Linked DNA regions of Homo sapiens: all the other regions are linked to region 1. Evidence: fine-mapped expression QTL. A gene starts in region 1. Each other region holds a variant in brackets. All regions are shown on one strand. Distances are between the middles of the regions. Region 1 holds the start of SSH3 (slingshot protein phosphatase 3). Region 2 holds the start of CLCF1 (cardiotrophin like cytokine factor 1). Region 3 has its middle 12 kb from the start of TMEM151A. Region 4 overlaps KDM2A (lysine demethylase 2A). Region 5 overlaps LOC100130987 (a long non-coding RNA gene).

Evidence for each region.
Region 2: its variant is fine-mapped to the expression of SSH3 in minor salivary gland (GTEx, PIP 0.99).
Region 3: its variant is fine-mapped to the expression of SSH3 in fetal neocortex (Walker 2019, PIP 0.95).
Region 4: its variant is fine-mapped to the expression of SSH3 in monocytes after LPS (Quach 2016, PIP 0.95). The same link has a PIP of 0.9 or more in monocytes after Pam3CSK4.
Region 5: its variant is fine-mapped to the expression of SSH3 in whole blood (TOPMed, PIP above 0.99).

What each region holds. Positions count from the first base shown.
Region 1 is chr11:67,300,096-67,306,044 of GRCh38, reverse strand. SSH3 (slingshot protein phosphatase 3) reads right to left here and starts at 2,515. Exons shown (of 14, transcript NM_017857.4): 1 at 2,354-2,515; 2 at 1,890-1,927; 3 at 1,038-1,272. The coding sequence starts at 2,419. It overlaps ANKRD13D (ankyrin repeat domain 13D), which reads right to left. Exons shown (of 15, transcript NM_207354.3): 10 at 5,922-5,949; 11 at 4,898-5,055; 12 at 4,647-4,763; 13 at 4,394-4,557; 14 at 4,222-4,313; 15 at 3,561-3,926. The coding sequence ends at 3,713. RefSeq lists enhancers at 2,328-2,847, 2,848-3,365.
Region 2 is chr11:67,370,152-67,376,067 of GRCh38, reverse strand. CLCF1 (cardiotrophin like cytokine factor 1) reads left to right here and starts at 2,470. Exons shown (of 3, transcript NM_013246.3): 1 at 2,470-2,544. The coding sequence starts at 2,529. The region is part of intron 2 of LOC100130987 (a long non-coding RNA gene); the gene reads right to left. RefSeq lists silencers at 2,132-2,181, 2,742-3,081. The variant T/A (reference allele first, on the strand shown) is at 3,760.
Region 3 is chr11:66,300,819-66,306,767 of GRCh38, reverse strand. No RefSeq gene overlaps it. Among named protein-coding and RNA genes, the nearest start is that of TMEM151A, 12 kb to the right of the region's middle. The variant T/C (reference allele first, on the strand shown) is at 3,120.
Region 4 is chr11:67,239,671-67,244,670 of GRCh38, reverse strand. It overlaps KDM2A (lysine demethylase 2A), which reads right to left. Exons shown (of 21, transcript NM_012308.3): 13 at 1,579-1,662. Among named protein-coding and RNA genes, the nearest start is that of GRK2, 24 kb to the left of the region's middle. RefSeq lists enhancers at 3,550-3,719, 4,300-4,379, 4,570-4,629. The variant CAT/T (reference allele first, on the strand shown) is at 2,391.
Region 5 is chr11:67,379,650-67,385,598 of GRCh38, reverse strand. All of the region lies in intron 2 of LOC100130987 (a long non-coding RNA gene), which reads right to left. Among named protein-coding and RNA genes, the nearest start is that of CLCF1, 9.0 kb to the right of the region's middle. RefSeq lists enhancers at 4,610-4,659, 5,504-5,949. The variant T/C (reference allele first, on the strand shown) is at 2,963.

The DNA of each region.
Region 1 (5,949 bases):
GTGCTGGGATTACAGGCATGAGCCACCGCGCCCGGCCAGTTTTTTTTTGTTGTTTTTTTTTTACCCTGTCACTTGCAAATGCTATCATTTCATTTGAGAAATGTTTATCACCAAAGAAATATTAAGGACAAAATCTCACGATAGGGGATGATACTTCTGTTGTAAATTCAGTTTTACCAAAGATTCACTGCATCTTGTTTGCCACGTCTTGCTGAGGACGGCGAGCTGTCTCCACAAGTATTTGAGCATGAGCGCTCCAGCTCCACCTGGACTCCCTTCCTCCGTGGGGCTGGAGTCCTCCTCCCCTCTGCCTGGGTCCCTCTAGCACACCCTCCCCCAGTGTGTGTCCAGCAAGCCTGCCTTGTGCACTGGTCCATTTAGGGACAGCTCACATCATCAGGAAAGTCTTCTACTGGTTGAGGAGAAACATGCCTCTGGAATTCCCACCCCTTGGACCTAATTTGGCCCTATTGGCTCACACAGGACAAACCTCCCCTGTTCTTTCCCTTCCAGAGACCTGCAGCCATGACCTCGCCCTGTCAAAATATCTCTGCCCAGGCCGGGCGCGGTGGCTCACGCCTGTAATCCCAGCACTTAGGGAGGCCGAGGCAGGCGGATCACGAGGTCAGGAGATTGAGACCACCCTGGCTAACACGGTGAAACCGCATCTCTACTAAAAATACAAAAAAAATTAGCCAGGCATAGTGGCGGGTGCCTGTAGTCCCAGCTCCTCGGGAGGCTGAGGCAGGAGAATGGTGTGAACCCGGGAGGTGGAACTTGCAGTGAGCCGAGATCACGCCACTGCACTCCAGCCTGGGCAACAGAGCGAGACTCCATCTCAAAAAAAAAACAAACAAAAAACAAAACATCTCTGCCTGAAACAGCAGGGTCACTGGGATATGGGTAACCCCAACACTCCCCAGGCTGCCCCCTGCCCTCACACCATTGCTCCCCAAGCAGACACATACACAGGGCTCCATTCTGCCCTCAGGCGTGTCTCTTCCCCCCACCCCCCGGAGCTCCACATGGGCCCTCACCAGGCGGATGTCATCCTGCGGCCTCAGCAGCTGTACCATGAGGTGCAGGTGCTGCCTCTGCTCCTCCTGCTTCTGGGGACTCTGGGATCCTTGCCCGAAGTCTGTCTGGTCCCCGTGGAGCTCCTCCTCACTCGGGGCCTTCTCTGTTGGCTCAGAACTGGCCTCTGCTGCATCATCATTGTCCCCTCCATCCTGCAGTCCCAGGACAGCCCCACGGAGCACCGCAAAGCTCTGCCTGGCAGGGCAGTGGGCAACTGTCATGGCTCCTCATTCCCCTTAGGGTAGGGGCTCTCAAAGTCTAGCATGCATCACATTCACCTGCAGCCCTTGTCTACACGGATTCATGGGCCCCCACGCGGTCGATAGGTCTAGAGTGGAGGCCTGAGCATCTGCATTTCTAACCCCTCGGCCCCTTGGCAATATTGCTGAGAACCAGTCTTGGGGGCTTCCAAGCTCTCAGCCCCTCTACTCTAGCTCATCTGTGGGGAGAGGGGGCTGCTCCTTTTCCCCTCCCACCTGTTTAACTCAAGTGCTGCTGGGAACATGGTCGGGGACCCAGGAGTCCTCAGGCCCATCATGCCCTCCTGCCGTTCGGCCCGTGGCCACCACCTGAGCCAAAGCCCAGGGCAGTGGATGAGGAAGCCCCAGCTGACCAGGGGGAGGGTGAAGGCAAAGGCCGCCCTACCGCGAGCCCACCAGCCGGCCCCACCGGGAACGCTGCCCCACAAATTTGGCAGTGGGCTTCGCTGCGCGTCCTCCGGGGAGCTTTCTGTCCCTGCAGCTGGAGCCCAGGACGGCCGTGGCCAGGCCCGGGGCAGACGGAAGTGTCTGCGTGGGGGAGGTGGCGCTCACCTTCGCTGGAGTCGACTCCTTCGCTGGACCGCCTGGTCCTGCGGAGAGAGCAGCCCCAGGGCAGGGTGAGGGCGGGGAGGGCTGTCCCCTCCCCTCTCTCAGGAATTCTAGAGTTGGGGGAGGCCAGAAAAGGCGCCAGATGCCAATCGTCTTCCCACCCCAGTCCACGCCCCACCGGGAGGCCCCGTGGAGCCCCGGCCCAAGGCCAGGTCGGCTGGGTGGGCGCCGAGTGTGGCGGGGGGCGCGCTCAGATCGGGGCCTCCGCAGCCCGGGCGGCGCGCAGGGCTCTGGATTGTGCCCCGGCGCCAGTACCAGAGACCCTCGAGGCCCCCAGCGCCCTCCAGCCCGAGCCCCGGGGCCCCCTCCTCATGTCCCCGTTCGAGAGGAGCCCGCTGGCGGGCAGGACGCGCTCCCAAGCCGGGGCAGCAACTGCGTGGGCGGCACCACGGCCGGACCACACTCACCCAGGGCCCCACGGGCGTGGAGGCGCCGCTGCCCGGGGGCGAACGGCTCACTGTGACCAGGGCCATGGAGCCAGGCCGCGAGCACCTGGGCTGGCACCGGGCACGGCCCCTTCCCTCAACCCCGCGGACAGTCCTGGACCCGCAGGACCAGGAAGGACGGACGGCGCCACCCGGGCCTGGCACCTCCTCGGGGGCGGCCCTTAAAGGGCCAGACACTCGCCCAGCCGGGCCCGCGGAGCTTCTCAGGGCGGCCGGGCCCCGCCCCTCCGGTCTCCGCTGTTCGGCCCGCCCAGCCCCTGGGCACAGGTCAGGGGCGAGGCCGGGGGCGGGCGCAGGTGCGGAGCCCGGAGACCCGGAGGGCAAGAGCTGAAGGCCGGGAGTTTGGTCCCCCTCCCAGGAAGCGCCCGGCCCGGGCCGGCCCAGCGGGAGCACCTGAGCTGTTCTGGGCCTCCAGCGTCCTGTGCCCTGCAGAGGCGGGTCCTAGGGAGGCAGAGCTGAGGTGGGGAGGTGGGGGACAGGTCTAGAGAGGATCAGGCACGGCGCGCCCTCGGCCAAGGGCCCCCACCCCAAACATTTCTCCCTGCTGGTCGGCCTTCTCGTTCCCACTCCGCAGGAACCACTGGAAGACAGGCTTCCGGGGAAAACGGCCTGGGGTTTACAAATAACCCAGGAAGCCCATGAGGGGCTCTCAGGTCCACCTCGGAGGCGAGCAGGGCAGGGCTTCCAGCTACGCAGGCGGAAGTGACTTGCGCAAACCCACCCGCAGAGAACAAGCCGCAGTCAGGGCCAGGGCCTGGGCTTGGCTGCAGGGGTCGGCGTCGGGGCTCTTCCCAGCTGGAGGTGAATGGTGCCTGGGGACCCAGGCTTTTCCTCCCCAGCAGGCACGTGGGCCGGTTTCCAGAAGACTAGGCTGGGTGGCAGGACGAACCGGGTCCCCAGCAGGTGGGACAGGGCACAGGGGATCTGACTTTCACAGGACGCCTGCTTGGTAAGGACACGTGACTCTCGCCAGCTCCTTTCAGCCCTGAGGGGCGGAGGGTGGGGGGTGGTCTCCTCATTTTACAACTGAAGAAACTGAGGCTCAGATAGGCTAAGGGGACCATGACCAGGATTCAAGCCCAGGTCTGAGGCCGCCATCCACAGTGCCTCTCCACAGCGCCCCACCTTCAGGGTCCCCACCGCTCCAGCCCAGTGAGCAGAGCAGCCCTGCTGCGACAGTCTCTTTATTTCCATCTCAGTCTCCCCTGCCTGCTCATTCCTGGGGCTCCAGGCCCCAAGCTCAGCAGCAGAGAGTTTATAAATAAATAAATTACAAAAGCGGGCAGGGAGTGGCCTGGCCAGCCCTCCCGGGGCTATGGCTCAGTGCTCAGTGAGTGACAGCTGCAGGATCCGCTGTAAGTCCTCCTCCTCCTGCTGCCCGCGCCGCTCCCGCTCCTCCTGCTCCCGTGAAGACAACTCCAGGGCCAGGCGCAGCTGCTCTTCAAAGCTGGGTGGACCGGGGGCTGGGGGTGTCCTGGGAGGGGATCCTGGGCCCCTGGGCTCTGTGGACAGCTGCAGGCTTTCCTGGAGGGCCCTTCCAGGCAGGGCAGGGGAGGGAAGAACAGGCCAGTGAGCGCCAAGGCTGGGGCAGAAGCCGAGGGGCTGGGGACCGGCTTTGGAGGACAAAGGCAAAGACAGGGTGGCAAGCAGAGGAGACAAGGCAGGGCCCTGCTTCCCCACCCCTCACACCACCTTTGGTGGCAGATAGCGCTGCTGACAGAGGGTGGCCTTGCAGAGGGCCTGGGGTCCTAGCACCTTCCTGCTATCCCCCTCCCCGCCAAGCCAGGGCTGGGGGGACAGGGACCCAGCCAGCCCCATGAGGGGCTCACCGCTCCAGCTGAAGCTGTTCCTCATAAACCGTGGCCTGGGGAGGAGGGCGGGCACCGGGCCGGGTGTTGGTCAGGGCTTCCCAGACGGTCACCTGCAGCCACCAGAGCCCACAGCTGTCACTTCTGCCGTGTGGCTGCAGAGGCCAGAGCCCACCCCCTGGGCAAGTCCCACCTGCTCCGCCTCAGTGCCCGCTTCAAGCAGGCTCTGCTGGATGGCGAACTGCAGGAGGTCATCGTCCTCGTCCCGGAGGGGCTCGTTGCGCTCCATGCCCAGCACGCTGTACCCGTTGGGCACTTCAAACACGGTGGGGTCCACCTCGCACGGGAAAGGGTTCCCTAGGCAGGTGGCAGAGGGGCCACGCTCAACCCGCGGGGCTTGGTGACCAGAAAGCTGTGCAGGCTCCCTCTTCCTCCCGTTGGGGTACCTGATGCGGCAACAGCAGAGCTGGGGGCCGGCACCCACACGGAGCTCAGGGGCTCATCACAGCCACACAGGTTGCTGAAGGTGATGCGGGCATTGAGCACGTGGAAAAGGGGAATCTCTGTGAGAAGACAGCCACGCCTGAGCCCTGGCGGAGAGCCACCTGTGCCTCCGGCCCCTGCAGCTCTCCAGGGACTGCGCTGAGGGAGGGTGCCATGCCTGAGGTCCTCCCGCTGCCTGTGCCCAGCCTCTCACCAATTTTGACGGGGAAGCCAGGTGGAAGGCGCAGAGTGATGAAGTCGCGCAGCTTGGCAAAGTGAGCGTTGCTGATGGCCATTAGGTCGATGATGGGGGTCACCTGGTCACCCAGGGAGAGCGGGTGCTCTTCACTCAGCCACAGTGTTGCCTTGAACCTGCCCAGCCGACCACAGGACATGGGTGAGGCACGGCTGGTGGCCCTTCCATTGAGGACTGCCCTCTGGTTCGTGGGCAGCTGCCTTTACCCACCTTCTGCCTGGCCTGGAGTGCCCTGCTCTGCTCAGATGCCGCTGCCCGCCTCCCCCGGGAGCTGGTGTCCTGGCCACGTGGCCCAAGCTGCCCTCCTCCCTGGGCCCAGGCTGGGGCTCCTGAGGATTTCGTACCAGCTCATCTGGTCTGGACAAGGAGGCCAGGTGCCAGGCTGTGGGCTTCTCTCTGGGCCTGGCCCACAGCCCCGTTTTCCTCCTCAGCCCAGAGCTGGTCACCAGCTCACGTGTTGCCAAACTTTTATGTCCAGCACACCCCAGGGCAAGACTGCCAGGGTTCGAATCCCAGCGACTGTTGGGTGGCTAAGAGAATCCTCCTGAGATGGTGGGGAGAGCGCTAGGCTTGTGCAGGCACTGTGCCTGCTGTTACCGCCTATACCTGCTCAAGGCTCCTCACGAGGCAAGAGCGTAACTGTTCTGTTCCACCAAGGCAGACGCTCCACTCCCAGGCCACGTCGCTGGGGGCCCTTCCCACTGTGCCACGCTGGCCCCAGCAGGTACTCATGAAATTCAATAGAAAACCATACATGGGTGGCACCATCCATTCATCAAAGACAAACTACCGGTTTTCTGTGCCAAGCCCCTTGCTAAGGGCTGAGGACCATGGATAAGGCAGACATGACTCCTGCCCTCCAGGAGTGGAGTCCAGAGAGAAGCCAGCCGAGGGAGTGGGTCCCTAACTATGACAGGCCCAGAGAGGGGTCTGCAAGAGCCCTTGTCCCGAGGCAAGTCCCCAGCCAGCTCTCAGACCTCACCTCTGTACTTTGCTGGACATCTCGATGG
Region 2 (5,916 bases), 70 kb before region 1:
CAAACCAGTGCTTTCTGGCTGCCCCAGGTGGATGTGTGCTGGGGATGGCGTTGTCCACTCCCACCTTCTGCTTCAGTGTCTTCCTCTCCCCGCATCCGCTGCTTCCCCCTCTTCCTCCCAGCTCCCTCCTCCCCTCTTTCTCACTCCCACCCATTTGCCTCTTTGTGTCTCCTCTTTCCTTCCCAGTCTTGCCCCTTCTCTGGTCTCACCCCTCTTCTCTCGCCCCCGCCCCTTTCTTCAGCGCCCCCTCCCCTCCGCTCCCCCGACACTGGGGCTGCTTTCTCCCTGACTCAGCAAGGTGCTTTATAAGGTGCTGAGGGGCTCAGCCAAATCCAAACCACATTGTGCAGACTCCACAAGGAGCGGCTTCGAGGCGGAGGGAGAGGCTGAAGCGGCTCCCCTTCTCCCTCTCCCCTCCTTCTTGGCCCCCTCCCTCTGAAAGGGTAGCAGCTAGGGGGACCTCCTGGCTGGCCTCCGTGCCATGCACCCATGGGCATCTGCCTTCTTGACCTTGGCATGGGCATCAAGAAATCACTGGGTTCATCCATCAGGAATGTCACTGAAACTCCAGAGTCCTGGCTGGTGGGGGCAGGGAGGAGGTGCGGGGGCGGTGGGGGGGGCAGAGGTAGGCCCTGAGCACTTTTCACAAGGGTCCCTCCAGGCAGTTTTCATCAGAGCTGCTACTGAGGTCCCTCAAAGTCCCCTGCCCCCCACCCCAAGCCAGCTCTCCTTTCCCAGCCCTTTTTCTCCTTGTTTAGGAAAAAAAAAAGGAAGAAAGGACAGAGAGAGAGAGAAAAAAAAAAACCAACCCAACAACAAAGTCTGTCCCACTCCAGTGAGGTAATTGAAAACAAACTTCTTCCCCACCCCCCCCACCCCCCCACCTCAGTGCTCGCGGTACAGAGAAGGGAAGAGCTGCCCTGGGACCCAGCACTGGCCATGATCAGGATGCCTGCCCAGGCCACAGGTTGGAGGCGCTGGGGCTGGACTGGCAGAGTGCCCTCCCATTCCAGGGGCACCAGGAAGGAGTGGGAGACAAATCTCTGATGCCACTCCAGGGAGAGGCATCACCTTCCAGGTCTGGCCCACCACTGGCCTCTCCCACTTTGAAACAATAAATAAACAACAACAAAAGCAACTTATTACCCAGTGATTTAATTGGTGGTGTGGCTATAGGGCACCCAAGCCTTGGGGACCACATGACTCTCCCCCAGGAAAATCATGAAGCAGGGCAGTCCCCAGCCCTGGGTTAGAGCTGCCTCCTCTGAGCGTGTTCTCCCCGGCAGCCCTTGGAGAGGGAGGAGGGGACCCCCTCTGGGAGGGTCCAGGCATACCCCCAGGTATCCTGCCCAGCAAATCCCAACCCAGGCCTGCGGGAAGGAGGGGGAGCCCTCACCGCTAAGCCACCCCCACCTCACCACCGGAAAAACCAACAACCCGAAACCCCAAAGGAAGGAGAATGCCAGGGTCTTCATGGGGAAACATTTCACAAATGGGGACGCTCGGGCGGTCCATCGCCTTGAATCGGAGCATTCCCGCTGAGTCACCCAAGAAGCCTGTGGTGTTGAAACTGGTCCGTTGCCTCGTGCTGATTAATGAATTACAAATCCCCCACCCATGTACATTCTCCCTGGTCACTGGAGGAAGAATGAAGAACCTTGTGAACTTGAGGGAAAAAGTCCCGCCAAGTGGCCTCTTCTCGCCTCTGGGCCGGGCAGTGGGCCTGCAGTGCCCTCTTCCTCCCCCGCAGGGGGCATTGTGAGCTGGTTAGTCACCTGCCCCAGCCCCAGCGCCTCGCTTAGCTCTAGCTTTTGGAAATGGGACAAGCGGCGGGACAATAGGCAGGGGGGGCGGTCAGCCCAGACAAAGGGCAGCAGGAAAAACACCATCACTTGCTCCCAGGCCAGCTCGCTGGCATTTGGGAGAATGTGTCATTGCATTTACTCAAGGGGGAGGAGGAGGGAAGGTTAGAGATGAGGAGGCAGAGGTAGGGTGGGAGCAGGGACCTCGCACAGGCAGAGGTAGGTTGGATCAGGGACCCCGCATCGGCAGGGGACAGGGGGCAGGGGGCGGTGTCCCAGGCCAACGCCTGGGGAGAAGCCCACCCGAAGCCGGCGCTGTCCCCCGGCTCCTGGGAGTCCTCAGACGGACTGATGGCCTCCCCGCCCCCTCCCCCAGGAGGCCCAGGGTGGTACCGCCACAGCCTCGCCTCACCTCACCCCCCCTCGGTGCTGTGGGAGGGAGAGGGAGCCCCAGAAGCCCTCCCTTCCCTCCTCCCCCCTCCTACCCCCACCCCGGGGAGGGCCGCTACAATTTGTGGTTACAGCTTTACACGTCAGAAAAAAAAAAAAAAAGTTTGCAGAATGTCCCACACCGAAAAAAAAAAAAAATCCGAAACCGAGCGAAAAAAACCTGCGAGTGGGCCTGGCGGATGGGATTATTAAAGCTTCGCCGGAGCCGCGGCTCGCCCTCCCACTCCGCCAGCCTCCGGGAGAGGAGCCGCACCCGGCCGGCCCGGCCCCAGCCCCATGGACCTCCGAGCAGGTAGGAGCCAGGCGGCCGAGGCCCCGACCCCCGCCCCGCCAAGCAGCCACGAGATCCGGTTCCCGTCCTGCCCTGACCCCCGGGAGCCCCGCGCCGGGGCCGGGCCAGGGAGCTGGGCTCGGGCCGGGGGAGGCACGGCTGGGCGCCCTCGAGAGGGGCCGGGCGGGGACGCGGCATTCCTGGAGTCCGCACGGCGGGGCCAGGAGGTGGCCGGGAGCGGCGGGGAGCCCGGACGATCGCAGACCTGGGGAGGCGGCAACCTGGAGCCCCAGCGAGGCGGGCCGTAGGAGCCGCAGCCCCAGAGCCCCGCGCACCAGTCGGGGCCAGAGAGTCCGAGGCGGGGAGCGAGGCTGCGGGTGGGAGGAGGGGCTGGGAGAGGAAGAGGGAGGGAGGCCGGGGGAGCCCGAGGCCGGGCGGCGGGAGGCGAGGGGAGGCCGACACCTCGGGCCGCGCCGCTCTCCCTCCCCGGCCCGCCGGGAGGGGTAGGAGGGCGGGCGGGAGGAAGGGCGGGCGGCGGAGAGGAGGGCGGAGGGCAGCGCCGAGCCTGGCTGGGCCGGGCCGGACGGGCCGAGCCGCGCCGCGGGACTCGCGGCTTCCTAGCTACGCGCCGCGCGGCCGGAACCCTCCATGGTGCCCACGGCCGGGGAGCCGGCGGCAGGTAGGGGCGGCGGGCGGCGGCCGCGAGTCCCCCGGGCCACCGTGGCCTGGGAGTGATTATTGTTTGGCGGGGGGCTGGCGCAGCCGGGCCGGACCCGGCAGGAAAAAGTCTGTCACTGGCCAGGGAGCGGCGGGAGCAGCCGCTCAGCCCGGGCAGGAGGGGAGTTGACGCGCGGGAAAGGGCAGCGCCGGGCAGAGCCCGGAGCCCGGTGCCCCGGACCCCGCCCCCGCCCCCGCCCCCGCCCCCGCCGCGGGGAAGGAGCGACCGGGCGGGAGCGGGAGGGGGCGGGGCCGGGGGCGCCGAGGCCACACAGGGGGAAGGCGCAGCGCCGGGAGGGGTCCCAGAGCGAGAGGTCACCGCCAGCAGGGAGGGCCAGCTGGCAACCGCCGCCGTGCAGCTTCCCGGCCGAGCCCCTCGAAGGAAACCTTCGAAAGAGTCCCCGGGGCTCGCCAGAGGTCCCCTCATGCTTGCTCTCCCCACCCGCCTTCCTTTCCACAACTCCGTGCTGGGCTTCTGGAGCCCTCCCCACAGACCCTCCCAATCCCAGAGGACCCCTG[T/A]TCCCCCAGCTCCCAGCCTGGCCCTCCCCCCGGGGTGTGAGGGGCTACCAGGAGAGGAGGGGAGACGGGCGGGTGGAGGCTAAGCCTTGGAGAGAGGCTAGGGGTGGGGGGCACTGGGCACGCTGCTCTACTGGGTCCTCCTTCTCTGACCCTAACCCAGGGACACCTCTGTGCTTTCACTGACCCCGACTGACCTCCGCCACAGCTCGGGAGCACACGTTGCCCCTCACACCGGACAGGATGCGAGTACATATTCCCCTAACAGACCAGACGCGCTCCTGGCCAGCTCAGACACCCTCGCTGCCCTGGAGCCACACGCTCCACCGGGGAGGAAGCAGAGATGGCAATTGTCACCCGGCAGCCCCAGAAGTGACACTGCTGATGGGTGCAATGGCTCCCTGTCCCCTTCATTCACAGACCCACACTCTTGTCCGTCACACTTCTGCACACCACCCCTGCACGCCACCCCTGCACACCAGCCACTGGCTCACTGACACTTCACATTCCTCCCCACGTCCCACCTCTTGTGCACACCTGGCTCCTGCACTCTCCTCCCCCCCCACGCCCCTCTTGATAACAACACCCTTTCCAATTCACCCACCACTGCCCTGGACTCCTCCTTCACTGCTCCTCCTGCCTCTGGCTCTCAGTGGGCTGCTGGGCTCCCCCCTGGCTCCCCGCTGGCCTCCCTGAGCACACCCATGGCCCTCTTGTGGCACAATCAGGAACCCTCTCACTCCAGCCAAAGCCCAACTCCTGTCTCGCTTGCTTGGTTACTGACTTCATAAGGCAGTGGGGCTGGCCCACCCTCAGCTTCTTCCCCTGGGCCTCAGTGACCTCTGTCATTTAGGCTGGAGGAGAAGGGCACAAAGGGGGATGCTGGAGAGGAGAGGAGAGATGAAGCCCCGTGTGTTTCCTCTAGGAGGAATTGAGCTTGCATAATGTGACCTCCTTGTGCAAGCCCACAGTCACCAGACGAATTGGTGGCAAAGCTAGGTCTCCCAATTCCCAGGCCCATGTGTCCCCACTCACCAAGCTACTTCTCAGTGGCCTGGGGTAAAAGGAACCAAGGAAAAGGCAGAAGGGAGATAAGTAAGAGAGGGGAAAGCAGCAGCCCAGAGGGTGGAAGGAAGATGGGTTTCTGTGGGCCTTTGCCTGGGAAGGTAGGTCAGGACACGCCCCTGGGGCAGTTTCCTACCGTCACAATGCCTGGACCTCACCCACTCCATCCCTAGCCCACTCCTCACCCACTCTGCCCGCCTAACCCACTCCATCCCTCAATTCCCCTCAACAGACCCCTCCAACCGCAGCCAGCGCTGGTCCTGGTCTGGCCTTTCCTCCTGGCTCCCATATTCAGCCCAGCCTGAGGCCACCATGCCCCACCTCTGGAGCTCTGCAGTGCCTCCCTGGCTGCAACATTTAGGGCTTACAGTTCTTAGCGTAGCTCTTATAGTCCCAGGTGCAGAGACTCCCATTGACTTGTCCTACCACCCTAAGCACCCTGGCACATCTGCATGGCTGAACTCTCACCCTCACTGGGAAAGGTCAGCCTGGGGGTGTCCAGGCCAGGGACTGAGGGGCAGCTGGCTAAAGTGGCTAAAGACATGTGCTCACGGGTGCGCCTGCCTGTGCAGCTGTCTGGGTGGCCAGTCACTTCCTTGGGCTAAGAGAGAGAGAGTGTGTGTGTGTGTGTGTGTTCATGAGGAGAGCCTTGGTTCCTAGGGCCCAGGGATCTGGATGGAATTAGGGGCTGGCCGGGGGTGGGGGGCTGTTGCAGGAAACGTGAGCTGTACTCGTTAGCTCCTCACGTGCTCAGCCGGATTTATAAACACACAGAGAAGACGGGATGTAAACAATCAGTGGGCAGCAGCCAGAGGCAGAGCTGGGGCGGGGGCCGGGCTGGGGGCCAGGACTGGTGGGGAGGGGGAGAGGGGGACCTAGGACACAGCCCCAGTGGCCGGGGTCCACCTGCACAACATGAGCCTGAGGGAGGATGGATGAGGGCTCCAGGAAGCCCACCACGCACTCTCCTCAGGAGGCAGGCGAGCTGTGTTGGGTTCCCAAGCTCACGACTAAACCGCAGGTGTTCACCCCACGCTGCTTTCCCTCCTGCTGCCTGAGACACGGGCATGGCTTTGCCCAGAGTGGAAGCTGTCA
Region 3 (5,949 bases), 1.0 Mb after region 1:
TTTTTTTCTCTTTTCTTTTTTTTTTCTTTTTGAGACGGGCTCGCTCTGTTGCCCAGGCTGGAGTGCAGTGGCACGATCTCGGCTCACGGCAGCCTCTGCCTCCTGGGTTCCAGCAATTCTCCTGCCTCGGCCTCCCGGTAGCTGGGATTACAGGCACGTACCACGACCCCCGACTAATTTTTGTATTTTTAGTAGAGACAGTGTTTCACCATGTTGGCTAGACTGGTCTCAGACCCCTGACCTCAGGTGATCTGCCCACCTTGGCCTCCCAAAGTGCTAGGATTACAGGTGTGAGTCACCACGCCCGGCCCACTTTTGCAGTCTTTTATAGCACAATGTTATTGTCTTTTATAATGTATTGTGCTTTTTTCTTTTGAGACAGGGTCTCACTCTGTCACCCAGGTTGGAGTGTAGTGGTACAATCATGGCTCACTGCAGCCTCAACCTCCCAAACTCAGGCGATCCTCCCACCTCAGCCTCCCAAGTAGCTGGGACTACAGGCGTGTATTTTTTGTACAGACAAGGTTTTGCCCTGTTGGCCAGGCTGGTCTTGAGCTCCTGACCTCAAGTGATCTGCCTACCTTGGCCTCCCAAAGTGCTAGGATTATAGGCATGAGCCACTGCGCCCAGCCTGTATTGTGCTTTTATAACACATAAATTGAAACTATTCTACTGAAAAAAGTATTCGTATTTTGGTCCGTTTTATTTTATATGTTTTTTAAAAAGAGAAGAAAAATACATCTATGGCCAAGCGCAGTGGCTCATGCCTGTAATCCCAGCACTTTGGGAGGCCGAGGTGGGTGGCTCACAAGGTCAGGAGATCGAGACCATCCTGGCTAACACAGTGGAACTCCGTCTCTACCAAAAATACAAAAAAGTAGTGGGGCGTGGTGGCACACACCTGTAATCCCAGCTACTCGGGAGGCTGAGGCAGAAGAATCACTTGAACCCAGAAGACGGAGGCTGCAGTGAGCCGAGATTGCGGCACTGGATTCCAGCCTGGGTGACAGAGCGCGACTCCGTCTCAAAAAAAAAAAAGAAAAAAAGAAAAAAGAAAAATACATCTATCTTTTGGACTGTGACCATGGGTTACTGAGAACTAGCCAATTTCAGTCTCAGCTGATATTCTGGACAGAAATGCCTCCTTGGAGCAGATGTGGCACAGCTACATTTGATATGTAGTCATCAGTTTAACCAATCTGTCTGTCTTGGTCTCTGTTGAATCTGACTTCCAGGAGCTTTGACCTTTACCCAGAAGGGCAGCAGCGCACCTTCCCCATCCTCACTCAGGGTGTATCCAACTTTTGGCTGGATGCCTGATCCTCCTTGCCCTTTCCAGATACATCCCAGGCCATCTCAGCAGTGACTTCATACTCACGGGCTCTGAAGAACAGAAGGCAGCAGGTGTGATGTAAGAGGGAAGATGAAACTCACAAAAAATGAATGCACCTGGGCCTGCCACCTCGGGGAAGCTCTAGGGGTCTAGTGGTCTGGGGTCTGGATCCAAGGAGGAAACATAGAATGCCATGGTTTGCTGGATTAGGTAGTTGGCAAATGCTTCCCTGGGTGCCCTAAGTTCTCAAGCCCACTAACCAAAGATCAGAAAAGCTCCACTGCAAGTGTGGCCAAGCAATGAAAACTTTGGCTGGTCTGGGCCGTGGTCCACTTGGCCCTCAGGACCCAGCTAACCCCAGGAAGTTGGAAGTGTTGGTAGGAGATCGGGAATCATTCACTTAACACAGATTGACTAGACATCCATTATGTGTGCCAGGCACTGCGCTGGCTGCTGGTGAAGTGTGCGTATGTTGTAAGAGGGAGCGTCCACTTGTAATTTATAATAATGCAAATGATGATGATAGCAATCTTTATTGAGCACTTCCTATGCTTGAGACCCTGATTTAAGCACGGTCACATAGTATCTTTTAAGAAAATATTTATTGGCCGAGTGCAGTGGCTTCTGCCTGTAATCCTAGCATTTTGGGAGGCCGATGCAGGTGGATCGCCTGAGGTCAGGAGTTTGAGACCAGCCTGGCCAACATGGTGAAACCCCATCCCCACTAAAAATACAAAAATTAGCCAGGCATGGTGGCACATGCCTGTAGTCCCAGCTCCTTGGGAGGCTGAGGCAGGAGAATCGCTTGGACCCAGGAGGCAGAGGTTGTAGTGACCCAAGATCATGCCACTGCACTGCAGCCCGGGAGACAGAGCAAGACTCCGTCTCAAAAATAAATAAATAAATAAGAGAGCCTTAGATAAGGCCGTCTATAAGATTAGATGGGGAATAAATAAATATTTAAAAATATATATTTATTTATAGGCCGGGTGCAGTGGCTCACATCAGTCATCCCAGCACTTTGGGAGGCCAAGGCAGGTGGATCACTTGAGGTCAGGAGTTCAAGACCAGCCTGGCCAACATGGTGAAACTCTGTCTGTACTAAAAATACAAAAAATTGCTGGCCATCGTGGCTCATGCCTGTAATCCCAGTTACTTAGGAGGCTGAGGCAGGAGAATCTCTTGAACTTGGGAGGTGGAGGTTGCAGTGAGCCAAGATCTCACCATTGCACTCCAGCCTCTGTGACAGAGCGAGACTCTGCCTCAAAAAAAAAAAAAAAAATTTGACTGGGCACACAGTGGCTCACACCTGTAATCCCAGCACTTTGGGAGGCCGAGGTGGGAGGATTGCTTGAGATCAGGAGTTTGAGACCAGCCTGGGCAACATAGGGAGATCCCATCGCTACAAAATATAAACATATATAGCTGGGCATGGTGGCGTACACCTCTGGTCCCAGCTACTGCAGAGGCTGAGGCAGGAGGATCTTGTGAGCCCAGGAGTTTGAGACTAGCCTAGGCAACATGGCAAAACCCTGTCTATGAATTTAAAAAAAAGTATATATCTCTATCTATCTATCTATCTATCTATCTATCTATCTATCTATCATCTATCTATCTGTCTATCTATCTTTTTTGAAATGGAGTCTCATTCTGTCACTCAGGCTGGAGTGCAGTGGCGTGATCTTGGCTTACTGCAGTCTCCACCTCCCAGGTTCAAACAATTCTCCTGCCTCAGCCTCCCAAGTACCTGGGACTATAGGCACACACCGCCACACCTGGATAATTT[T/C]TGTATTTTTAGTAGAGATGGGGTTTCACCATGTTGGCCAGGATGGTCTCGATCTCCTGAACTCGTGATCCTCCCGCCTCAGCCTCCCAAACTGCTGGGATTACAGGTGTCAGCCACCGCGCCCGGCCTGAAGTAAATAGGTTCTATTGTCATCTCTCATTCTGCAGATGAGAAGACTGAAGAAGAGAGAGAATAAGTGACTTGCCCAGGGCTTCTCAGGTTGTAGTGGAGAGTTGGAATTATTCCAACCAACTCAAGGGTCTGGCCGTGTAACTATTCGCCTCCCATGGCCTTGATTCTTTTTTTTTTTTTTTTTTTTTTTTGAGACAGAGTCTTGCTCTGTCGCCCAGGCTGGAGTGCAGTGGCGCCATCTCGGCTCACTGCAAGCTCCGCCTCCCAGGTTCACACCATTCTCCTGCCTCAGCCTCCTAAGTAGCTGGGACAACAGACACCCGCCACCACGCCCCAGCTAATTTTTTGTATTTTTTTTTTTAGTAGAGACAGGGTATCACCGTGTTAGCCAGGATAGTCTCGATCTCCTGACCTCATGATCCGCCCGCCTCGGCCTCCCAAAGGCTAGGATTACAGGCGTGAGCCACCATGACCAGCCCCATGGCCTTAATTCTAATAGAAGAAACAGATAAAGAAACTCGTGCATAAATAAATGAAAATAATTGTAACTTATGGTGAGTGGCCGAAAGGAAATGCAAAGCGAGCTGAGAGTTGGTGGGAGAGAACTTTAGACAGAAACCAATGGGGACGTGATTTGATTTACATGAGGTCTCTGCATAGGCCGCAGGAGTAAGTGGGCGTGGGAGGCCTGTCGGAGTCATGGGGGAGGAATCCTGGGCACTTGGAGCAAGGTGGCTTGGGGTGGAGAGGAGGTGGGGTGTGTTGTGTTCTGAGTAGAATCTTGGGTGGTCGATATCACGCGTGGTGGGGCGGGTGAGGGGAGCTGACGAAATGCTACAGCTTCTAGGTCTTCTTCAAATAATCCAGTTGGAGCTCAAATAAGTGGGGCTGAGTGTGGATGGAGCCCAGAGTGGTTGCAGGTGGATGATCATCACAGCACTGGGTGCTGAGTAGAAGGGGCCTCACTGCACCAATCTTTCTGCTTTTGTGATGTTTGAAATTTTATTTTATTTTTTAGAAAAATTAGCCAGGTGTGGTCGTACACACCTGTAATCCTAGCTACTCGGGAGGCTGAGGCAGGAGAGTCACTTGAACCCAGGAGGCAGAGGTTGCAATGAGCCAAGACTGCACCATTGCACTCCAGCCTGGGTGACAGAGCGAGACTCTGTCTAAAAACAAAAAACAAAAAAAAAAAGAAAGAAAGATATTTTATTTTATTTTTGAGACTAGAGTCTTGCTGTGTCACCCAAGTTGGAGTGCAGTGGCACAATCACGGCTCACTGCAGCCTTGACCTCTTGACCTCCCAGCTCAAGCGATCCTCCCACCTCAGCCTTCTGAGTAGCTGGAACTACAGGTGAGCTCCAACACACCTGGCCAATTGTTAACTTTTTGGTAGAGATGGGCTCTCACTATCTTGCCCAGGCTGGTTTCAAACTCCCAAGCTCAAGTGATCCTCTCACCTCAGCCTCCCAAAGTGCTGGGATTACAAGCTGAAATTTTACATAATACAAAGTTTTAAAGAAAGAACAGGCCAGGCGTGGTGGCTCATGCCTGTAATCCCAGCACTTTGGGAGGCTGAGGCAGGCAGATCACCTGAGGTTAGGAGTTCAAGACCAGCCTGGCCGACATGCAGAAACCTCATCTCTACTAAAAATACAAAAATTAGATGGGCGTGGCAGCGGGTGCCTGTAATCCCAGCTACTCGGGAGGCTGAGGCTGGAGAATCGCTTGAACCCTGGAGGCGGAGGTTGCTGCAGTGAACGGAGATTGCGCCACAGCACTCCAGCCTGGGCAACAGAGCGAGGCTCGGTCTCAAAAAAAGAAGAGACAGCCGGGCGGGGTGGCTCACGCCTGTAATCTCAGCACTTTGAGGGGCTGAGGTGGGCGGATCACGAGGTCAGCAGTTTGAGACCAGCCTGACCAACATGGTGAAACCTCGTCTCTACTAAAAATACAAAAATTAGCCAGGCATGGTGGCATGTGCCTGTAATCTCAGCTACTCAGGAGGCTGAGGCAGGAGAATCACTTGAACCCGGGAGGCGGAGGTTGCAGTGAGCTGAGATCACGCCTCTGCACTCCAGCCCGGGTGACAGCGAGACTCCATCTCAAAAAAAAAAAAAAAAGAGGCGGCTGGGCGCGGTGGCTCATGCCTGTAATCCCAGCACTTTGGGAGGCCAAGGCGGGCAGATCACAAGGTCAGGAGATCGAGACTATCCTGGCTAACACTAACACAGTGAAACCCTGTCTCACTAAAAATACAAAAAATTAGCCGGGCATGGTGGCGGGCACCCATAGTCCCAGCTATTCGGGAGGCTGAGGCAGGAGAATGGCATGAACATGAACCCGGGAGGCGGAGCTTGCAGTGAGCTGAGATTGGCCACTGCACTCCAGCCTGGGCGACAGAGTGAGACTCCATCTCAAAAAAAAAAAAAAAAAAGAAGAGGCTTGCCGTGCTGGTGCCTGGCTTAGGCAACTGGCTGAATGGTAGCTCTATTTCCTGAGATGGAAGACAGAGAGGAGCAGATGGTGGTAGGGGTGGAAATTACAGGTTCTGTTCCTGCCATGCTGTGGGTAGCCTATGTCAGGAGAGAGCAGAGGCAGAGGCCGCTGGGGTTTGGGAGCCAGGCTTTGCACCCCTTCTCAGGCATGAATTCTTCTCTTGAGAACGGTTTAGAACAGAACACCTTGGCTTGATGT
Region 4 (5,000 bases), 61 kb after region 1:
ACTGAGAAATTGTTGACTGTGTGGTGTACAAAACCTAAAGTATTTACTATCTTGACCTTTACAGAAAAATTTACCAGCCCTTGTCCTAGCCCTTTGGCCTACTAATTCAGCTGCTTCCCTTTCTTTTTGCAGAGCTGTTAAGATTCACCCCTCCCTGAGCTTTCTGTATCAAGTGCCATGTACCGAAGTCACTCCAGGAGCCCTCCAATATTTCCTCATCCTGACTTCTCAGATTATACTCCTAAAGAAGACAGTAAACTCCCTTAAGGTGAAACTAGTCTTGTTCATTTCTTTAGTACTCCAAATTCAAGCATACGAACTGGTAGATAGCAGACACTTCAATAATATTTAAGTGTGGAACACATTTCTTAGCATTTGCATTTACCCTGCTGGTGACCTTTTCAAGGACAAGGACCATGTTTTCTACTACTTTAATTTCTTACCATATCTTAAACACTTTTCTGACACAAAATACTCAACAACCAGAAATGACTGAATTGTTTTAAGGCAGTCACCTGTGGCCAAGCAGAGGCCAAGCAGGACTCCTCCCACTAGGGACGAGGAGGTGATTCTCTAAATATACTGTTCAACTCCATACCTTTATATTCTGCCTAAACACCCCTGGAATGTGATGGCTTTGCAAGTTTCAGCTAGGGAACAACAAACAGAAGCCTCATTTATTTGCCAAATTCACAGCCAGGATCAGAATGCTATCATTTATTTAATACATAACCTTGATAGAGGACAGTATGGGGAAAAAAATTATACAGGATCTAAACTGAAGAGGCATGAAAATTCATAATTGACAATTTATTAGCTGACAGTAATTCCTTTCTTCTTCTTCTTTTTTTTTCTTTGAGACAGTTTCGCTCTTGTCCCCCAGGCTGAAGTGCAATGGTGCGATCTCGGCTCACTGCAACCTCTGCCTCCTGGGTTCAAGTGATTCTCCTGCCCCAGCCTTGCAAGTAGCTGGGATTATAGGCGCATGCCACCACGCCTGGCTTAATTTTTGTATTTTTGGTACAGACGGTGTTTCACCATGTTGGCCAGGCTGGTCTTGAACTCCTGACCTCAGGTGATCCACCTGCCTGGGCCTCCCAAAGTGCTGGGATTACAGGTGTGAGCCACCATGCCCGGCCCCTTTCTTCTCTTTTCCATTCCACACTGCAAAGTCCAAGGTAAGGGGATTTTTGAGAGAATGATCTCACTACGTCAAAGAAAAACTCTGCTCCTTTTAGATATCTATGTAATTATTTTAACTGGCTTTCAATCATATCTGTGAAGATAGCTGAGTAACTGGTCACAAGGATAGAAGCGGATGCACAAATGCACAATTTGGCATCTGAATCTGGAGGGAGGCCTCCCAGTTTGATAGTTCTGTTAAGAGAGGTCACCTCCAAAGATAGCCAATTACCCTGACCTACGAGTCAAAACAGAACTGAATAATGATTTTCTGTCAGTTTGTATTAATGCACCAAAAGCCATCTGCCTCTAGTTGTTCTTGTTTTCCCCAGAATGGTAATGATCAACTAACAAAAGGCTTAAGCAGCCTAAAGATCAAGGAAAATAGTTTCTTACCTTATCCCTTTTTGGCCACTGTACTATAGGAACTCCAGTGAGGGCTAACTTGGGATCGCTGTTGGCAAGCTCCTCCAGCAAAATCTAAGGGTAGGAGGGAAAAGAAGGAAAAATCAGGGCAGGGTGAACAAAGAGCCAACCACCCTGAACAGCATCCAGACTCTGCCTCAGTACCCTTGAGTAGCAAGGGAGGCAGGGTGGCAACTGTCTGTATTTGCCCTTCATATAGAGACTCACTGGAAAACAAATAAATCAAAGGTGAAGGAGAAAACTCAAACTTAGGCTGCTGCAATATTATCAAAACTTTGAGGCTGGGCACAGTGGCTCATGCCTGTGAGAGGTGGGAGGATCACTTGAGCCAGGAGTTTGAGACCAGCCTGGGAAACACAGCAAGACCCATCTCTACTGGGGGCGGATGGTGGTGGTGGGGGAGCAGAAAGGACTTCAAACTCACCTTTGTTCCCAATCCCTTACTTGTGTACTAATTATACTAACACACTGAAACAACTAACTTACTGTGGTGACAAGTGTTACTTCTCATACAGTTCTACATATGACAGTAAAACTTTATTATTGCTTCTTCACTTTTCTACACCAGTTAGTGAATATTATCAGGTAATTGCCTTCATTTCTCAGATGTGAACCAAGTGGCATAAAAATGATTTGCTAATACAGAATTAATGAGATGAATGGTACAGCCTAATGTGCAGATTCAACCCAGGGCTCTTTTCTTCTAAGGCTGATTACAGAAATCTCAATCTCAAATCTCTTTCTTTCTCTCTCTCTCTCACACACACACACACACACACACA[CAT/T]ACACACACCCACAGAGTCTGCTATTTGCCTTTATTCCTCTAAATGGGGGAAAGGAACAATCTTAGGGGCAAAAGTTCTCATGGCATTACCAATAAAATTTAAATGACTTACGAACAATGCTACAGTGAGAAAATGCCACTTAAGTGAATCACACTGGTTGACTGTTATTTTGAAACAAATATATTTTTTTTAATTTTTATTTTTTAGATGGAGTCTCACTCTGTTGCTCAGGCTGGAGTGCAGTGGCGCTATCTCGGCTCACTGCAACCTCCGCCTCGCCTCCCGTGTTCAAGCTATTCTCCTGCCTCAGCCTCCTGAGTAGCTGGGATTACAGGCACCTGCCACCATACCCAGCTAATTTTTGTATTTTTAGTAGAGACGGAGTTTCACCATGTTGGCCAGGCTGGTCTCGAACTCCTGACCTCAGGTGATCCGCTTGCCTCGGCCTCCCAAAGTGCTGGGATTACAGGCATGAGCCACTGCACCTGGCCAAATCTTTTCGTTTTAGACAGAAACTCCTGAAACCCAAATCTTCTAGTATAATGGAATCCTTCTTCTTCTGACCTTATGAGCCCTAAAGCAACACCAACAGCAAAATAAATCTGGGAGACAAGTTACATGATTCCTTTTCTGGCTACCCTAGGTATGTATGTACAGGATGGTAACTGTTTCGGCAAACACTAAACTCTGATCCTGGACAGGTTAGCAAGTCTGGGCCATTGCTAATAATTTTTCTCATAATCCTGTGTGCTCTGTCCCGGAGACCAGGACTTTTATGTATTTTCATTCTTAACCTAAGGATCCTGCTCCAAATCCCAAAGTTGGGTCTCAGAAAGACCCTTTCACTCATAGCCAAGAAGCTCCTCTACTAAGATCCCCTTTTGCCAAGTCTCCAGATGCCTCTCACCTTCCCCCAAACTCATTTCATCTGCGGATGTTTTATTTACTTCAAGTTGCTATGGCATCCTTTTCTGTTAGTACCATACAGCGTGGGGGTGAAGAGGCGGGGTGTGGTGCCACGTGGGACAAGGCTCTGGTATGGGCTCCTAATCTCCCTAGGGTGAAAAATTCAGGTCCATTCAAAATGTGTGCTAGGGAGTGCATGGCTCCCCTCCCCCACTTCGCACTGACGAAGAGTAGGACTCTGCCCATTTCCTCTGCTGAAGTGAACTGAGCTGTCCACAAACGGGGACTTTCCACTTTCAGCAAAACAGACTGCACAGTAAGATCTGCGATTGTTCAAGAGTAGAAAAGGAACTTAACTGTTCACCAAAAGCAGTCTAATTCTACCTGCAAGATTTTTGTGGGGAATAGGGAAGGGTAGGCGGAAAACTGTGTCGGTGTGTGTGTGGGGGGTGGCAGCTGTTCACACATACAAGACTCAGTTACTGGGGTATGTGTGGGTGTGGAGGGAAATGCAGATTTCCTTCCAAGCCTTATTTTGCTGGGGCCATTCAACCAAGCACGCCCTGCTTTCATCAAAAAAGGCAGACTCCAGCTGAGGCCCTACAAGAAACCATATAAAGAAGCCACCACCCTTCACTAGAGGGGGTTTGGGATAGGAGAGCGGGGGTGGAGTGCGGGAAAGGCTGACGCCTATCTCGGCTCCAGGCATTCGGGAGAACATTTAAACACAAGCCCACACCCTACAGATCACAGGAAGGGAAAGAGAACAGAAGGTGCCTGGGCAGAGAGGGAAAGGATTCTCAAAAGCCAACCAACCCAATTCAAAAGCACATCCCACCAGGTGAGGGAACAAGTGCAATGACGGCTCAAGCAACACGAAGTAACATAGCATTGTCCTGGACTCGCCCGGCAGGCAGTTTCTCCTGCCTCTTCACTGAGACAAAAGTCCCTATAGTTACACGCACCCCAAACCAGAAAGGGTTTGCCGATCGACCCCCTGACCTTTCGTTTCCCGTCGCTCTGGAGCTGCCGAGGCTCTTGGTGAAGTTTCCCCAGCGTCTTTGTTTTGTTTTCTGTACTGGAAGTTCTCCTGAAGGAGTTAGATATTCTGCCTCTGGGAAAATCCGGATTTACTTGAATATTCTGGAATCTCCCAGAGCACATAGGGCAGGGCAGTCCAGCTCTGACCCTTCAGACTACCCAGAGGGAGCAGCGTGCAGCGCTCTGGGCTCCTTCTCGAGCCCTTCAGCTCAGCCGCGGCTTCCTGTGCCTGCGAACAATGCTGCTGCGTCACCCACATGCAGCTCCCAGAAATGCTTTGCAACGGAAGATGGCAGGAGGGGGAGCCGAGCGAGAGTGAGCGAGCCAGGCAGAGGGCCCAGCCGTTCTGCTGCAGAGCCGGGAGGGGGTGTGTTCAGCAACTGCTTTCTTCCTCGCGATTGGAAGAGGCCCTGCCAGGGAGGAGAGCTCAGCCACAGCCCCCGCCCTGTCTCCCTCCCACCACCACTGCAATAGGAGAACCTAGGGCCAGCCCCCTGAGGGCTCCCGGTGGCAGACTTCTGAAGGCGCCAGCCAAAGGGAAGGCTTTAACTCATTCTGCGGGCTACACTAGGCACCTTGGCCCACATTTGTCCTTGTTTCAGTCCACACCCTTCCCCTCAGGGTCACCTCTCACTGTTACCACTGTTACTGCCAGAGCTC
Region 5 (5,949 bases), 80 kb before region 1:
TGCAGAGTCCGGTCTCCTGAGCTGGGGAGGGCGGGGGTCTAGTGGGGGAAGACTGAGATTAGCCAAAGAATCATCAAGGTAAATATGAAATTACACCTTTGAGAAGGATCAGGAATGATGATGACGTGGGCTCTGCGAATATGTCCTGGGGAAGACCTGGTCAGGAGCATGAGGGAGAGCTTCCTGGAGGATGAAACAGTCTGAGAGGGGTGAGGTTAGAGCACGGGCTGGCCAGGAAAGCACAGTTGCTGAGAAGCCATTGGTGGGGCTCATTTGCCAGGCACTGCTCTGTCCCACCATGGGATTCCCCATGCAGCCCTCCTTACAGACAAAGGAGCACAGACAGTATTACTCATGGCTGGCATTTTTCCAGATCAGGGTAACTAAAAGTCAGAAGGGGCAGAGGAGTAGAGGAGTTTAGGGTTCAGGAGTTTACTCTGGCTTGTTTTCTTCTCATCATGCACACACAGGGACTGGCATTTGTATGGTTACTGTGGGGTAACCAGGCAGGCAAGGCAGCTCTGAGCTGGCAGGGTACCTGCCCTGCTTGTAATGAGTTTGTGGCATTCCAAGTGCTGCCAGCCCCCCAGCCAAGCTCTGCCCCTGCCTTTCTTGTTCCCTGGCATTTCTCCCAGAAATCAGAATGATGTTTGGCACACAGCAGTGGTGTAATAAGTCTGTGCTGAATGACTGAAGAGTACGGAATTCAGAGAGGTTTCGGGACTTGAACCCACGATTGTCTGTTGAGGTTGAGAATGCAGTTGTGGATGCCAGCCCGTGTAGGTCTGAATCCAGCCTAGCCGCAGTCTCCATCACTTAACAAGTTGTGCAAAAATGGACAAGTTGCTTATGTTCTCCAAGCCTGTTTCCACCTCAAAGGGCTGTTGTGAGGAGTAACTTAATATTTACGCAGCTCTTAGAATCTGCTGTTAGCACTGCTGCGACTATGATTGCTGCGTCCTGCCCCTCCAGCTCGAGTCATCCTTACAGTATCCTTGGGCCGGGACTGGAGACAAAACAAACCATCAGCTTGGACAAAGCTAGGGTGAATCTACACAAGGATCCCAGGAGGAAAGTCTCGCAAGGAAACATTACAGAGAAAAGGCCTGCTGTCCAGAAACTGGCAAATATTCAGAAGACTCTTGGCCAGGCACGGTGGCTCACACCTGTAATCCCAACACTTTGAGAGGCCAAGGTAGGCAGATTGCTTGAGGTCAGGAGTTGAAGACCAGCCTGGCCAACATGGTGAAACCCCTTCTCTACTAAAAAAAAATACAAAAATTAGCCGGGCGTGGTGGCACACACCTGTAATTCCAGCTACTCAGGAGGCTGAGGCAGGAGAATCACTTTTTTTTTTTTTTTTGAGACAGAGTCTCGCTCTGTCACCCAGGCTGGAGGGCAGTGGCGCGATCTCGGCTCACTGTCAGCTCCACCTCCCGGGTTCACGCCATTCTCCTGCCTCAGCCTCCCAAGTAGCTGTGACTACAGGCGCCCACCACCACGCCCGGCAAACTTTTTGTATTTTTAGTAGAGATGGGGTTTCACTGTGTTAGCCAGGATGGTCTCGATCTCCTGACCTCATGATCCACCCGCCTCAGCCTCCCAAGGTGCTGGGATTACAGGCGTGAGCCACTGCGCCCAGCCAGGAGAATCACTTTAACCTGGAAGATGGAGGCTGCCGTGAGCAGAGATCCCTCCACTGCACTCCAGCCTGGGCAACAGGACAAGATTCCATCTCAAAAAAAAAAAGAAGACTCTTGGTTAAGGTCAGAAGAGTCAGCCCATGGGGAAGAGGCTCTGGAGAGAGGCTGCTGCTACTGCTGCCTCCAGCGGCACCACGTGCTGGCCCCATGATTCTGGGCCCTCTGTGTCCTCTGCCTTGAGAGGAGAATGTGAGCCCTTGCCTTCCTCCCAAGCTGCTGGAGCCTGGCATGAGATAATGGATGTGCCCACACTGCCAGGCACTGTGCGCAGATGAGGGACCAGGTCTTTTGAGTCTGCAGGGCTGGAGGTGGAGGGGAGATGGGATGAAATTTTTTTTTTTCAGACAGAGTCTCGCTCTGTCGCCCAGGCTGGAGTGCAGTGGCGCGATCTCGGCTCACTGTCAGCTCCGCCTCCCAGGTTCATGCCATTCTCCTGCCTGAGCCTCCCGAGTAGCTGGGACTACAGGCGCCCGCCACCATGCCCGGCTAATTTTTTGTATTTTTAGTAGAGACGGGGGTTTCATCGTGTTAGCCAGGATGGTCTCGATCTCCTGACCTCGTGATCCGCCCACCTCGGCCTCCCAAAGTGCTGGGATTACAGGCGTGAGCCACCGCGCCCGGCCAGGATGAATTTTTTTAAACCCACAGTGAGGATGGGAAGGGAGAAGTTCAGGCTTGTTCACCAAAACCTGGCACACTGGAATTACAGGCCCCCTTGGAGCGCAAGTGAGGTAAGTTTAGGACAAATAAAAGGCAGTGTGCTTCACCCAGCAGGGGAGGACGCTGATGGAACTCATTATCCCAAGATGTCGTCTCAGCTGGAAATAGAAACAGCTTCACAAAAGATTTAGATACATCCATGGATGATGGCTCCATTCATGGGTTAGAAGGGGAAGGAGGCTGTTTGAGGCCCGTCCCCCAGGGCAGGCATCAGGGAGGTGGCCCGGTCTCCCTAAGACCCCCCTTTGCACTCCTGTTAGAGGCAGGCTTCTGGCAACATGGACCCCAAGAGGCAACGTGGAGTCCCGTAAGTTAGAGCCTGACCTGTGTCCCTGGCCTTTTCCTCAACCTCCCCAATACTCAGCATCCACTGTTGGGGAGAGATAAGGTGCCACCAGCTTCAGGGAAAGCATCCCGGCTGGGCTGTCCCCTAAGAGACCAGCAGAGGGAGACAGACACCGTGTCCAGTCCCAGCTTCGGGAACAGAGACCTTGCTGATCCGCCTTGGGCAGGCCTCTGTGGGGGCAGTTTTGTGCTCA[T/C]GTTGTGCGGGGTGGGACAGAAGGGGACAGAGAGGGCATCCTCCCAGGCTGAGACAGGCTTATTACTGGGGAGATGGGGGCAGGGAGGAGATTTTTAGGAACTAGGGGCAGGGTGAGGAGGAGGCTACTAATTAAGAGCCGGGTGGCTCCAGAGCCAGGCTGCCTGCCTGTGTAACTTGGAAAAGTTATATAACTCTGTGCCTCAGTTTACCCATGGTAAAATGGCAACTACAACAGCACCGGCCTCAGGAGGGCTATGTGAGATTGCGTGCTGTATTCAAATGCTTCACTGCAGTGCCAGAGAATTGGGAAGAGCTCAGTAAATGGGAGCGATAGCCTACACCGTGGGGAGATCAGAGGACTCTCCCGTCTCCTTAGAGCTCCGGAGCTTGCAAAGCCCTTTTACTTTATTATCTCATCTGGGCCTCACCGAACCCTGGAGGTTTGGTGAGGCTAAGAGGCTCACTTTTTTTTTTTTTTTTTTTTTTTTTGGAGATGGGGTCTCACTCTGTCACCCAGGCTGGAGTGCAGTGGCTCAATAGCTCACTACAGCCTTGAACTCCTGGGCTCAAGCAATCCTGTCACCTCAGCCTCCCAAGTAGGTAGGACTACAGGTGTGTGCCACCATGCCTGGCTAATTTTTTGGGGAAGTAGGGGGGGATCTTGCTATGTTGCCCAGGCAGGTCACTTATAAGTGGTAGATCTGGGCTTTCTGATGCTAAAGAATCCAGGGATCTTTCTCAAGTTCCCTGCTGAGCTGGAGGCTGGAGGAGGCCTGCTCCAGGTGCCCTTGTCTGCACTGAGCCTCCTGGCAGGCCGCCCATATCTCTAGTTGGTATTGAAGTTATCTTGCCCACTGTCCCACCAGCTCCCGAGTCCCTGGCAGGCAGGCTGTGTTTCTCTGTAGGTCCACACTGTTCAGCAAGGCATATATAGCAGGGGCTTCCAAAAGCTTTTGGGAGGTGACGGGATTCCATGGGTCTGAATGCCAGCTCCTCCCCAGCTCCTGTCCTGGTTCCAGGTCAGGTGTGGCCCCCCACTTTTTGCCACTCAAATTCTCCCTGCCGTATCTCCAAAATCTCCCGACGTCTCCCTCTTCTGACCTCTCCTTTCTCTGCATCATAGCCCTTTGTATATCTCCTTAAGTTCCTGTTTCATTTTGAAATCTTGCAACAGTCAAAGGCTAAAACGGAAATATGTACAGAGTGCTCTGTTAAGGACCACAAGGTGGGCCTCAGAAAGATGGCTGTGGGTGCTAGAAAGCGGGTGAGCCTCAAATTAGCTGGGCATGATGGTGGGTGCCTGCCTCCCAGCTACTCGGGAGACTGAGGCGGGAGAATAGCTTGAACCCGGGAGGGGGAGGTTGCATTGAGCCGAGATCACGCCACTGGACTCCAGCCTGGGTGACAGAGAGAGACTCTGTCTCAAATAAAAAAAAAAAAGAAAGTGGTTGAGCTCTTCATAGACCTAAACCACCCATGTCTTCTAGACAACCTGAAAGCCTAGGACGGGGCTGGGTCAAGACTGGTTGGTTTCTCTCATGCCTTCAGAGCTGACTGTGCCATGAGACTCCACCCTTCCCACCTCCAGCCCTCTTCAACCCACTGAAGTCCTACAAGAATCTCTTGGGGACAAAAGAGGAGAGAGATGAGACGGGTCCTTAGAGAGCACTTATAACACAAAGTGGAGAGCAGCAAGGGCCCTGGAGAGTGAAGTCTGTGGTGGGGAGCAGAGCTGGGATGACAGTGACAGGCTTCAGGAAGAAGGCAGAAGAACAAAGGGTCTAGATGAGTAGCCATGGGGAGCTCACGAGGGGCAGCTGCATTGTGGGTAGAGAGGACACCATTAGCAAAGACAGAGGGATACGGTATGAGGGGTAGGTAACAAGATTCTTTAACATTATTGGCTGGGCGAGGTGGCTCACGCCTGTAATCCCAGCACTTTGGGAGGCTGAAGCAGGCAGATTGTTTGATATCAGGAGTTTGAGACCAGCTTGAGCTACATGGCAAAACCCTGTTTCTACAAAGAAATACAAAAAAATTGGCCGGGAGTGGTGGCTCATGCCTGTAATCGCAGCACTTTGGGAGGCCAAGGCGGGCAGATCACCTGAGGTCAGAAGTTCGAGACCAGCCTGGCCAGCATGATGAAACCCTGTCTCTATTAAAAATACAAAAATTAGCAGGCGCCTGTAATCCCAGCTATTCAGGAAGGTGAGGCAGGAGAATCGCTTGAACCTGGGAGTTGGAGGTTGCAGTGAGCCGAGATCGCACCATTGCACTCCAGCCTGGGCAACAGAGCAAGACTCTGTCTCAAAAAAAAAAAAAAGAAAAAAGAAATACAAAAAATTAGACAGGCATGGTGATATCCATCTGTAGCTACTCAGGAGGCTGAGGTGGGAGGATCTCTTGAGCCTGGGAAGTCGAGGCTGCAGTGAGCCATGATTATGCCACTGCACTCCAGCCTGGACTCTGTCTCAAAAATAAATAAATAAATAAATAAAACATCATTGATTGCTTCTAAGTGCCAGCAATTTGACCTATACTCACTCAGTTGTCCCTCATTCAGTTTTACATGGAGAAAACAGAGGTGTGGAGGGTTAGAGACTTGGTGGGGGTCACACAGCTGGTGGAGGCGGAGCAGGCACTCTCCCAGTGGTGCTGGAATGGCAGGCCCGTGAGATGGGACATCCCATCACTGGGATGGCCCCAGGGAAGGCGGTGTCCATCCTTTGACCCCAGGGGCCCCTAGAGCGGGAGCCCAGACAGTCTGGAGAAAGCTGGGAGAAGCCTGACAGAGGGGAGGACAGCGGGGTAGGAGGGGAGGAGAGCTCGGGAGGAGCCGGCATGACTCAGCAGGGCAGGATAAAGATCTTCCAGCCCAGGGAGAGGCAACCCCACTTCTCTGCCAGGGGAGACGGAGTCACAGAGCCCGCGGCATGGGCTGGCCAGGGCAATGGAACATCCTGGGAGAACGGCGGGGAAAGCTCC